2 separate regions of the Homo sapiens genome follow, and region 2 is linked to region 1. The links come from fine-mapping of genetic effects on gene expression. A gene starts in region 1. The other region holds a variant in brackets. All regions are shown on one strand. Distances are between the middles of the regions. Region 1 holds the start of EXOC3 (exocyst complex component 3). Region 2 overlaps SLC9A3 (solute carrier family 9 member A3).

Evidence for each region. PIP is the estimated chance that this variant, and not a neighbour inherited with it, causes the effect. A credible set is the group of variants that fine-mapping cannot tell apart.
Region 2: its variant is the best candidate, but not a certain one, in a credible set for the expression of EXOC3 in lymphoblastoid cells (GEUVADIS, PIP 0.66).

The regions. Positions count from the first base shown.
Region 1 is chr5:440,845-446,210 of GRCh38, forward strand. EXOC3 (exocyst complex component 3) reads left to right here and starts at 2,332. Exons shown (of 13, transcript NM_007277.5): 1 at 2,332-2,446; 2 at 5,306-5,366. The coding sequence starts at 5,362. EXOC3-AS1 (EXOC3 antisense RNA 1) reads right to left here and starts at 2,316. Exons shown (of 1, transcript NR_126522.1): 1 at 991-2,316. RefSeq lists enhancers at 64-123, 134-193, 1,777-1,826, 1,847-1,956, 2,727-2,856 and 1 more and a silencer at 2,037-2,426.
Region 2 is chr5:486,416-491,781 of GRCh38, forward strand. SLC9A3 (solute carrier family 9 member A3) reads right to left here. Exons shown (of 17, transcript NM_004174.4): 2 at 5,354-5,366; 3 at 1,901-2,061. Among named protein-coding and RNA genes, the nearest start is that of SLC9A3-AS1, 16 kb to the left of the region's middle. The variant C/T (reference allele first, on the strand shown) is at 2,385.

The DNA of each region.
Region 1 (5,366 bases):
TTCACTGAGGATGCATCCCTTGCACATCTGTGCTTCACATGGGAGTCGCCGTCCACCTCCCACCTGCTGGGAGCCTTAGCTTCATCATCTGTCCTGCTTCAGTGTAAAACCCAACCCCTGGGCCGCAGAACTCGCACCCTACCCACCCACCTGCCTGCTGTAGGACGGCAAGCATCTCTGCTTCTGATTCACGTCCTCTCCCCTTCCCACATTTGTCCCTGGTCACGTCCTTGCCTGTTCGTGAATCCACTTGTGCAATCGACATGATGCTTGCACTCAGCAGTGCTCCTGGGTGTTCGCAGAACATGGTCTGCCAAAAACAGAAGTCAAGAAACTTTTTTTTTTGAGACAGATTCTCCCTCTGTCACCCAGGCTGGAGTGTAGTGGTGCCATCTCAGTTCACTGCAACCTCCTCCTCCCGGGTTGAAGCCATTCTCCTGCCTCAGCCTCCCAGGGAGCTGAGATTACAGGCATGCACCACCATGCCTGGCTAATTTTTGTGGGGTTTTTTTTGGTAGAGATGGGGTTCCTACCAAAAAGACCATGTTGCCCAGGCTGGTCTCAAACTCCTGGGCTCAAGGGGTCTGCCCATCTCAGCCTCCCAAAGTGCTGGGATTACAGTTAGGAGCCACTGCGCCCAGCCAATAAATACCTTTTTTTTTTTTTTTTTTTTTTTTTTTTTTTTGAGACGGAGCCTCGCTCTGTTGCCCAGGCTGGAGTACAGTGGCGCGATCTTGGCTCACTGCAAGCTCCGCCTCCCGGGTTCACGCCATTCTCCTGCCTCAGCCTCCCGAGTAGCTGGGACTCCAGGGGCCCACCACCACACCTGCCTAGTTTTTTTGTATTTTTTTTAGTAGAGACGGGGTTTCACCATGTTAGCCAGGATGGTCTCGATCTCCTGACCTCATGATCTACCTGCCTCGCCTCCCAAAGTGCTGGGATTACAGGCGTGAGCCACGGCGCCCCGCCAAGAAAGACTTCTAATCAATGTTTTGTTAAGAAGTTACTAGACAGTCCTCCATCCAAATTCACTACCAGACACTGATATAATAGTATGAGTCTTTAGTTCATAATACTCAATGTTACTATATTTTTAAGAGTCCTAAAAGCTTTGGCAATTTTGGCAATTTTTTCTTCATTAGTTTCAAAATTTCTTTACAGTCATAATTTCTAACACAATTTTAACTTTTTTACTTTTTTTCATTGCTCAACTTGTTGCTAGATTTTCAGAAATTACAAGGAAAAACTGAAATAATAGAGCCGGGGTCAGTGTCAACATCAGCAGGGCACGGGGCAGGGCTCCCTGTCGGAGTGGCAGTGGGGGCTCCCGCAAGCTCCATCTCCTTCCTGTGTGCCCCTGCCCCATGCTGCTGCCACTTCCCTGGTCTCTGCTGGCTTCCCTGCCACCTTCCAGACCCTTCCTTTCGTGTGGCTAATTTTCAGGAGGGGCAGGGGCACAACCTAGCAGCTCCAACCTATGAAAGACTTTGTCAGTTGGTGTGTCAAAGCCAGCATCTTTTATCAAACAGACAAACCCTGAACGCTCGTGGTTTAGCACGTGCTTCTTCCTCCAGGCGAAGCCAAGTGCTGGCCATGGGCCTCTCCTCCAGGAAGCGACTCAGGACCGGCCCTCTGCAGCGCGGCCCAGTGACCCACATTCATTCTCCAAGACCTGCGCTGCTGGGCCTCTGAGGGGCCCCGGAAACATCCGGTGGCCACCCATCCCACTGGCATTGTTCCCACGAGGGTGCCAATGACTGCGCTCCTGGAGGGGCTGAGTTCGTCTTTGGGTCCAGGAGGTACCCAAAGCCGCTTGTCTGCTGGTGGCAGGTATGACAGACGTTTGATTCCCAACCTTCTCCGCTTTGGTTTCTTCGTTTACTGAATGCCCGGCGCCCACCTCAGTCCGCGGGAAACGAGGGACGCCCCTGCCACACTGCAGTGCGGACGACGAGGCCAACATAAAGACAGCAGGCATCAGCAGAGGATGGAGACAGCGGCTCTGGGGCTGTCTTCTCTCCGCAGGTTGGGAAGGGAAAGGAGAGAAAATGCACGCAGTCACGCTCGGCGGAGGCGTCCAGGACTGCGCCCGCCCTGGGGAAGGGCGCACGCGGTGGTCGCCAGGGGCAGCGAGAGGGCCTGAGTTGGGGGGGCTGGGACGGACAAGAAGCCCCCCACCTCGGCGGTTTCCCTGTCCTGCTGGGGAGCGGCCATGGGGCAGGTCCCCGAGCTGAAGTCGCTCGGCCGGGAGACGAGTACCCGCCCCGCGGGAGGGCCCGGACCCGTGCTTCCGGCGCCGTTGCCGGAAGCGGAAGTGCCCGCGCGCTGTCCACTTCCGGCCGGGACCCCGGAGGCGGAGGCAGCGAAGGCGGAGGGGGCGGCGGGGGCGGCGGCGGCGGCGGCGGCGGCGGCGGCGGCGGCGGCGGCGGCGGCGTAGCCGTAGAGGGTGAGTCGGTGGCAGGTCCTGACGGCCGGCGGGTCCTTGGGAGGTGGTCGCCGTCTTTCATCCTTGCTCTCCCTGTCTCTGGCTTCCGCGGGGGCGCGTAGGGGGAGGCCGGACCGGGACCTGGAGGGCGGGGAGGCCGTTCCGGACCCCGTGGAGTATCCCGCTCGTGCGAGTGTCCTCGGCGCAGGTGTCCTCCCCGGCACATGTGTCCCCCCCAGGCGTAGGTGTCCCCTTGGCACATGTGTCCCCACAGGCACAAGGTCCTTCCTGGTGCAGGTGTCCCCTTAACAGTGTCTTCCCCCACGCCCCAGGCGCTGGTGTCCTTCCTGGCACAGGTGTCCCCCCTCGGAGCAGGTGTCCCTCCTTGGGGCAGATGTCCCTCCAGGCACAAGTGTCCTTCCTGGCGCAGGTGTCCCCTCGGCGCAGGAGTTCTCCAAGGTGCAAGTGTCCCCTCAAGCACAGGTGTCCCTCCCAGGCACAAGTGTACTTCCTGGTGCAGGTGTCCTCTTGACGGTGTCCCCCCCCAGGCGCAGTTGTCCTTCCTGGCACAGGTGTCCCCCCTCGGACCAGGTGTCCCTCGTCGGAGCAGGTGTCCTTCTGGGCACAAGCGTCCTTCCTGGCCTTTAGGAAGCTTTCAAGGTGCAGGTGTCCTCCAAGGTGCAGGTGTCCTCCAGCGGAGTGTCCCCTCCGTGAGGTGCCTCCCAGCACAGGTGTTCCCCTCGGCGCAGGCGTCCCCCCGGTAAAGGGTCCCTCCTGGCAGAGGTGTCTGCCCGGCAGAGGTGTCTCCCTGGCGCAGGTGTCTCCGTGGGTGCTGATGTTCCCCGCAGTAGGGTGTCCCCCCGCTCGGCGGAGAGGCTCACAGCGGAGCCAGCGCCAGGGGAAGGCAGTCAGAAAGGCCCTGGTAGGGGCTGGACCTGGGTCTCTGTTTATGGTCTCTGAGTTCCTCTTTGGCTTCTGTGACCCAAAATCTTTAGTCTTCAGGCTGGGATGGAAGCCTCTGCGGTGCGTTTTTTAACTCCAGATTTTCCCCTTTTCCACATGAGTAGCTTTATTCTGACTCCAAGGCGAGCCCTGCTTCACAGCTCTCCACTCACATTGCCTTGGCTTCCACCCACAGCGTGACAGACTTCACTCCAGCCTTAAGATGGGCGCAGCCACCTCACCGCGTGCCCCAGCAGAGCGGCTGGGGGTCCACTTCTTGGGTTATTATCCAGCCCTATAATCAAAATCATACAGGCTTTAATGTCAATGGAAATGCTGATGATAATGTCCAAACAAAATAAGAAAACAAAAGTGTGCACCTACAAAGTCATATAAGCAGTGGAATCTTAGCTTTAAAAGAAACTCAAAGGGAAAAAACTGGAAGGAAACAAGCCCTGTTGGAGGGAGTTGCCCCTGAGTGTCGGGATTTAAGGGGAGTTGTCCCTGGGTGGCGGGATTTAAGGGGAGTTGCCCCTGAGTGGTGGGATATAGCGGGGGTTACCCCTGAGTGGTGGGATTTACGGGAAGTTGTCCCTGGATTGTGAGATTTAAGGGAAGTTGCCCCTGGGTAGCAAGATTTAAGAGGAGTTGCCCATAGATGATGGGATTTAAGGGGAGTTGCCTCTGGCATCTTTGTATTTTTGTCCTGTCCAGATTTTCTACGTTGGTATGCCAAATTTCATAATCAGAAAATAAAGAGAAAGGAAAGGTTGCAATGTAGGTCCAGATGAAAAAGGAGAAGAGAGGTGTCTGAAAGCATGTGGGCATGGAGAATGAAAAATTCCAGGAGAAGGTGAATCTTTTTAATATTCATGAAGATGAAAATCAGACAGCTGAAGTCAAGGGGAACAGGTGTATCGGATTCCCTCATTGACTGATGCTCACCAAGCAGCTGTGTTAGCTCCCCGAGGAGGACGATGGTGGAGGGAGCATGGAAGGCAGGCTTGCCTGGCATCTGAGCACCTGTGGTCTGCACGGGGCCTGCATAAAGGAGGGAAGCATGATGTTTTCTAGGACAGTTAAAAAAGGGGGAAATGGGGTTTTGGATACCCAAGACAATAATGACTTTTTCTTTTTTTTTCTTTTTTTTTTTTTTGAGACGGAGTCTCGCTCTGTCGCCCAGGCTGGAGTGCAGTGGCGCGATCTCGGCTGACTGCAAGCTCCGCCTCCGGGGTTCACGCCAGTCTCCTGCCTCAGCCTCCCGAGTAGCTGGGACTACAGGCACCCACCAACATGCCCAGCTAATTTTTTTGTGTGTATTTTTAGTAGATACAGGGTTTCACCATGTTAGCCAGGATGGTCTCGATCTCCTGACCTCGTGATCCACCCGCCTCGGCCTGCCAAAGTGCTGGGATTACAGGCGTGAGCCACCGGGCCTGGCTGACTATTGTCACTTTTATAGGGTGGGAATTGTGGGGCTTGTGCTGGGCCTCCAGCTGTGGTACCTGGTCGGGGGAGTTGTCCACGCTGTATTTGTCTTCACTGAGGGTCCTGGTGCAGCTGCCCACAGGCCTGGCCAAGGTGCTGGGGGAAAGCTCCCGAAATGAGAAACCAGCCCTGTCTTGGGGAGAGATGTGCCTTTGAGGCTGACATCTACATGCTGGGTGGTCTGGGACCCACATCTAGAATCTTCGCAATGTCCATGTCTCTCATGCCTGTGAAACGCCCCTGCTCTCCCCTTAAAGGTATAACTTCTGCATGTTTGTGTTACGAAGGTTTGTTTATCTTATCAAGGAGTTCCTCATCCTAGTTCAGCTTTCTTTGAGGTTTCCTGGATTAATGATCTCAGAGGCTCTGCTTGTAGCTCCACTGTGATCACCTGATAGTTTGGGGGAGGTTTTGTACCTAACATTTCTACCGTCCTAACAACTCCTGCAGTGCACAGAGAACACCCCTAGCATGAACAGTGTGAGGATTCCACCAGCTTTTTCACCATGAA
Region 2 (5,366 bases), 46 kb after region 1:
TTGTCACTGTGAAGTAGTAACCATGTTCCTTGGGGTTCCTGAATCTTCTCCTGGCCTTACTGAGCGCTGATGTGGCCTTTGGGCCTCTGTGGAGGCACCGTCCCCGCCTCCCGGAACACCATCTCCTCCAGGGACACCCACACACCGTCCGGGCTCTGCCGTTAGCACCAGTTCAGTTTCCCTCCCTTCACCTCTGTCATGGGCCAAATTGTGCCCCCGAAATTCCCATGTTAAAGTCCCCAGGACCTGGGCATGTGAGCGTGAAAAAGGGGAGTATGGCACAGTCAGGTCACCGGGGTGGACCCTGATCCAATAGGACCCGTGTCCCTGTGAGAGGAGGCGACTCGGGCACATTCACGCAGGGACGGCCACGTGAGGACACGGGAAGGCACCGTCTGCAAGTCCAGGACCGGGGTCCCGCAGGAGCCCACCACACTGACACCGTGATCCAGACCGCACTGACACCCACCGCACTGACACCGTGATCCAGACCGCACTGACACCCACCACACTGACACCCACCGCACTGACACCCACCACACTGACACCGTGATCCAGACCGCACTGACACCCACCGCACTGACACCGTGATCCAGACCGCACTGACACCCACCACACTGACACCCACCGCACTGACACCCACCACACTGACACCCACCGCACTGACACCCACCACACTGACACCGTGATCCAGACCGCACTGACACCCACCACACTGACACCCACCGCACTGACACCCACCACACTGACACCGTGATCCAGACCGCACTGACACCCACCACACTGACACCCACCGCACTGACACCCACCACACTGACACCGTGATCCAGACCGCACTGACACCCACCACACTGACACCCACCGCACTGACACCCACCACACTGACACCGTGATCCAGACCGCACTGACACCCACCACACTGACACCCACCGCACTGACACCCACCACACTGACACCGTGATCCAGACCGCACTGACACCCACCACACTGACACCCACCGCACTGACACCCACCACACTGACACCGTGATCCAGACCGCACTGACACCCACCACACTGACACCCACCGCACTGACACCCACCACACTGACACCGTGATCCAGACCGCACTGACACCCACCGCACTGACACCCACCACACTGACACCCACCACACTGACACCCACCGTCGTTCAAGGCACTGCACCTGCGGTACTTTGTCATGGCGGCCCTGGCAGATTACGTGGTTCCTATGGGATTTTGTTGTTTGCTATTCACGTATTTATTTTATTTGAGATGGAGTCTCACTCTGTCACCCAGGCTGGAGTGCGATGGCACGATCTCGGCTCATTGCAACCTCTGCCTCCTGGTTTCAGGTGATTCTCCTGTCTCAGCCTCCCCAGTAGCTGGGATTACAGGCGCGTGCCACCACCCCTGGCTAATTTTTGTATTTTTAGTAGAGACGGGGTTTCACCATGTTGGCCAGGCTGGTCTCGAACTGCTGACCTCAGGTGATCCACCTGCCTCGGCCTCCCAAAGTGCTGGGATTACAGGCGTGAGCCACCGCACCCGGCCACTCATGTATTTTTTAGGAACTCAGGAATGGGTGGCAGTAACTGTGGGTCCAAAGTCACAGACGCTCTGGGGACCAGGAGGGCGGGATTTCAACAGCGCCATCATTAACCCTGAAGCTATGGAGTGGGCGGGCAGGGCCTGGGAACTGTGGAAGATACAAAGAAGCCTCGCGAAAGCTGCCAGTCGTTCTGAGCTGGGAGGAAGGAGGTGGAGGGACGGGACGCCCCCGGGAGGGGAGTTTGAGGACAGGGTTTCACGCCCTCCTTTGCTGACTGACCGATGGGGGGTGAGACGGGGCCCAGGCCTCCCACGGCTCGCCCGCTCTGGAGCGGTGGCTCCGTTGCTCACCACGGTGACTGCGTCGTTCAGCAGCGACTCCCCGAAGACGATGATGAACAGGACCTCGTTGACATGGACCTCCTCAAACACGGCCAGGACGGCCACCGGGTCCACAGCCGCCATGAGGCTGCCAAACAGGAGGAAGTCCAGCAGCCCAATCTGCAGGTCGCCTGGAAGACAAGCCGGGCCGCGGGGCAGCTGCAGGGCCTGCCACCCGAGGAGGAGGGCCCTGGGGAGGCGCTCGCCTACGGGTCGGGGTTCGGAGCCCGTCTGGCTGGCGCCGGTGGCGTGGGGAGCTGGGTCAGCTTCCTGCGTCCCTCCCACAGACCCCCAGCCCCCTCCAGGGAAGGCTGCTGTCTTCCGAGGGGGCCACCCCATCTGAGCAAGACAGACAGACAGACTGACCCTGGCCCTGGCCCTCTCCTTCATCTTTGGGTGAACGGAGGCAGGTGGGTGCAGGGGCACCGCATGCTGGGGAGGGATGGGGGCCCAT[C/T]GCCTGGAGTGGCGTCCCAGCCCAGGAGAAGCAAGTGGGGCTGACCCAGGACGGGCCCGGAGCCGGGACACACAGCACCCAGGGGCGCGGCCAGGGAGGGGCAGGTGGGAGGGCCGTTGGGGGTGTGGGGGCAGATTGTGGGGATGAGCAGGGCTGCGGTGGGAGCAAGGGGGCCCGGAAGACGTGGGTCCATGTGGTCCCTAGCTCCCGGCCGGCTTCCCTCCCCGCATCTGCCTGTGGGCTCTGGTGCCCCTCGCTGGGGAGGTTTTACTGAAATGCAGCCTTATCCTTCACAAGTCTTTGCCATTCAACCCAGGGTTCAGGCCTCGAGGAGGCCACGTGGGGGTGCCAGGCTCCAGGGGACCCTCAGGGAACTGAGTGTGGCCACGTGGCCCCGAGAGTCTGCCCTCTCTCACGGCCGCAGGGCTCAGAGGACACTGGGCCTCCTTGCTGCCTTCCCGGCCGTGAGGGTCCAGGGACCAGGAGACGCCAGGGCCGTGAGGGTGTGGGAGAGACCACCCAGGGAGGGGGAGGCCCCCGACGAGTCCCCCCGCACAGCTGCTGCCTCTCTGCTGGGCTGGAGCGGAGCCCACCACCCCTCTGGGCTGAGGCTCGGGCTGAGGAGGGGTTTGTCCCTGGAGCCGGACGGGCCCCAGGAGACAGCAGAGAGCAGCCTGGCCAGGGGTTTCTGTGCTGGCGCCTGGGAGGGGACAGATCAGGGTCATCTCTGCGGTGACTAAACCCCGAGTTTGCTGTGAGCTCCTAAGCCCCAGCAGCCTCTGGCCAGTGTCACAACACCCCGAGGAAGTGACAGATGCCAGAAGAACCAGCGTTCAGGGAGTTAAAGTTCCATGTTGGAACGGGAACCACACAAGCCTTCTCCTCTTCCAAACTCAGGCCTCAGGACACGAATCCCCTTCAAGGTCATCTTTAAACGCGGCCTCCTGGCACGGCCGCCCCCAGGGCAGTGATGGCCCCCATGGATGTCCTGGGGTCGGCCGCGTTCAGACTCCCCGGCCGGCAGCCTTCCCGTCTGGACAGTTGCCCACGGCCGTGCCAGGAGGGCTCATGCCACCAGACCGCATGTTCCAGGCCTTTCTCCACCACGTGCTTTGCCTGTGCAAGGGCCTCTGATGCCTGAAGCTCTCGCAGGGCCTGTCCCCACACTGCCCGGACAGCCCCCGGGCCAGCACTGCCATGTCGACCCTTTCCCATGGGGCACGTTTGGCCTTGAGACGCTCCACAGGGCTTGGCCTCTGGTCTGCAGAGATCAGTTGCAGCCTCCCAGCTCTCTTGGACTCCCAGGAATGGGATGGACCTGCCGGCCATGGGCATCTCTGTTCCAGAACCTCAGGCAGCACCCAGCTTTGACCAGCTGGGCCCCAAGGCTGAGCGCAGGCCTCCAGCATCCGTGTCACCTGGGGAGCGGCCTGCCCCAGGGGGCACAGCGATACCTGGGACACGTGTTTCTCATGAGGAGCGTTGTTGGAGGACGGTAGAGTCCAGCGTGGCGAGGGGCAGGGGTGGAGTGCAGCGTGGCGAGGGGCAGGGGAGGGCCAGGGGTGACGTCCTGGTGTGGGGAGTCCTCCAGGGCTTCATGGTGCAGGTGCAGCAAGGACGTCCTCCAGGCTCGGCCAGTTGCACCGAGGACATTCTGCTTCGTGCAAGGGAAATCCGGCAGTGTCTCTGGCCAATGCTAGGCGGGGACCATTGTGACGTGGCCACAGAGCCACGGAGTGTGCCCGGCTCTCAAAGGAGCGGCCCTGACGGCCAGACTGATCACAGGCTACTCCATCCCACACTCGACACAGCTGGGAGGAAGCTGGGATCTCATGGGCGAGGGGCCATCTGGCAAGGTAGGTGTGAGCCTCGAGGGGCCGCGGGTCCAGGAGTCTCTGCTACAACCCCTGAGGCTTTCCCTTGGGTGCGGTGGCTAGGGCGGCTGCCCCATCCGAGGTGTGTCCTGACCACCTATGGCATCGCCCACGTGACGGGCCTGCCATCCATGAGCCTGTCTGTGCCCTCGGCAGCTTTCCCTGGGCTGCACCTGGTGGGTGATGCTGGACGGCAGGGACTACAGGGAGGGGTGAGAAGGCGCCAAGGAACCACGTGCTGGGTGAGGCGGCCCCAACCCGGGAGCTCCTCTTTCTCCATGCGTCTCCTTGGTCTCAGGTTTCAGCCCCTTGATTCCCATGGAGAGGCCGGGCCGTGCTCTCTCTTGAACCAGACGGAAAATCGCCAATTCTTGTGAGTCTGGTTCAGCTGGTGGATTTGTTTGAGGCTGAGTTCTCAGACCGGTGAGGGCGGCAGGTGCCGGAGGCCTGCGCTCAGCCGTGGGGCCCAGCTGGTCAAAGCTAGGCTCTGCCTGAGGTCCCTGGACCCACCTGGTCAAAGCTGTAGCATCCCCGGCAGCAGCGGCGGGCATCAGGGCTGCACCGCACCTGGCATGTTGAGAGGCGCCAGCCACGCGTGGTCTGGGTCCGGGGCGGGAGGCAGTGCCCGAGAGATGAAGCATCCAAGACCAAAACCGCGCAGCAGTTCTGGCTCCGGCTGTGGCTGCAGCGGTGGCCGAGCGGCTCCGGCACACAGGCTGGGAGGGACGGTGCCCGATACACCAGGCTCTGCAGTCCTCCTCCTCTCCCTGGGACCTGGTGGCCGGCGAGTGTGGACGGACCCCTACCTCTGCCCAGTGCCGGAGGAAGAGCGGCAGCCCCTGGCCACCTGCAGCCCCCAAGCCGAGCTGCCGAGATGGGAACTCCTCCCCAAGCAGAACACGTGCTGGGACCTGGGGACGCGCAGGGGACTGGCCTTGGTCACGAGGGCCTACGGGGCTGCCAGCCACGTTTCTCACCTGACACTTACCGCCTGGAGGCCAGGGTGCGGCACCCCGACCTTTCTGAGATGAGGCAGCGCCGCCCCTCCCGGACCCCACCCTGATCCCGGCCGGGGCAACAGTGGCGCAGACTCACCCATGAGCCCACT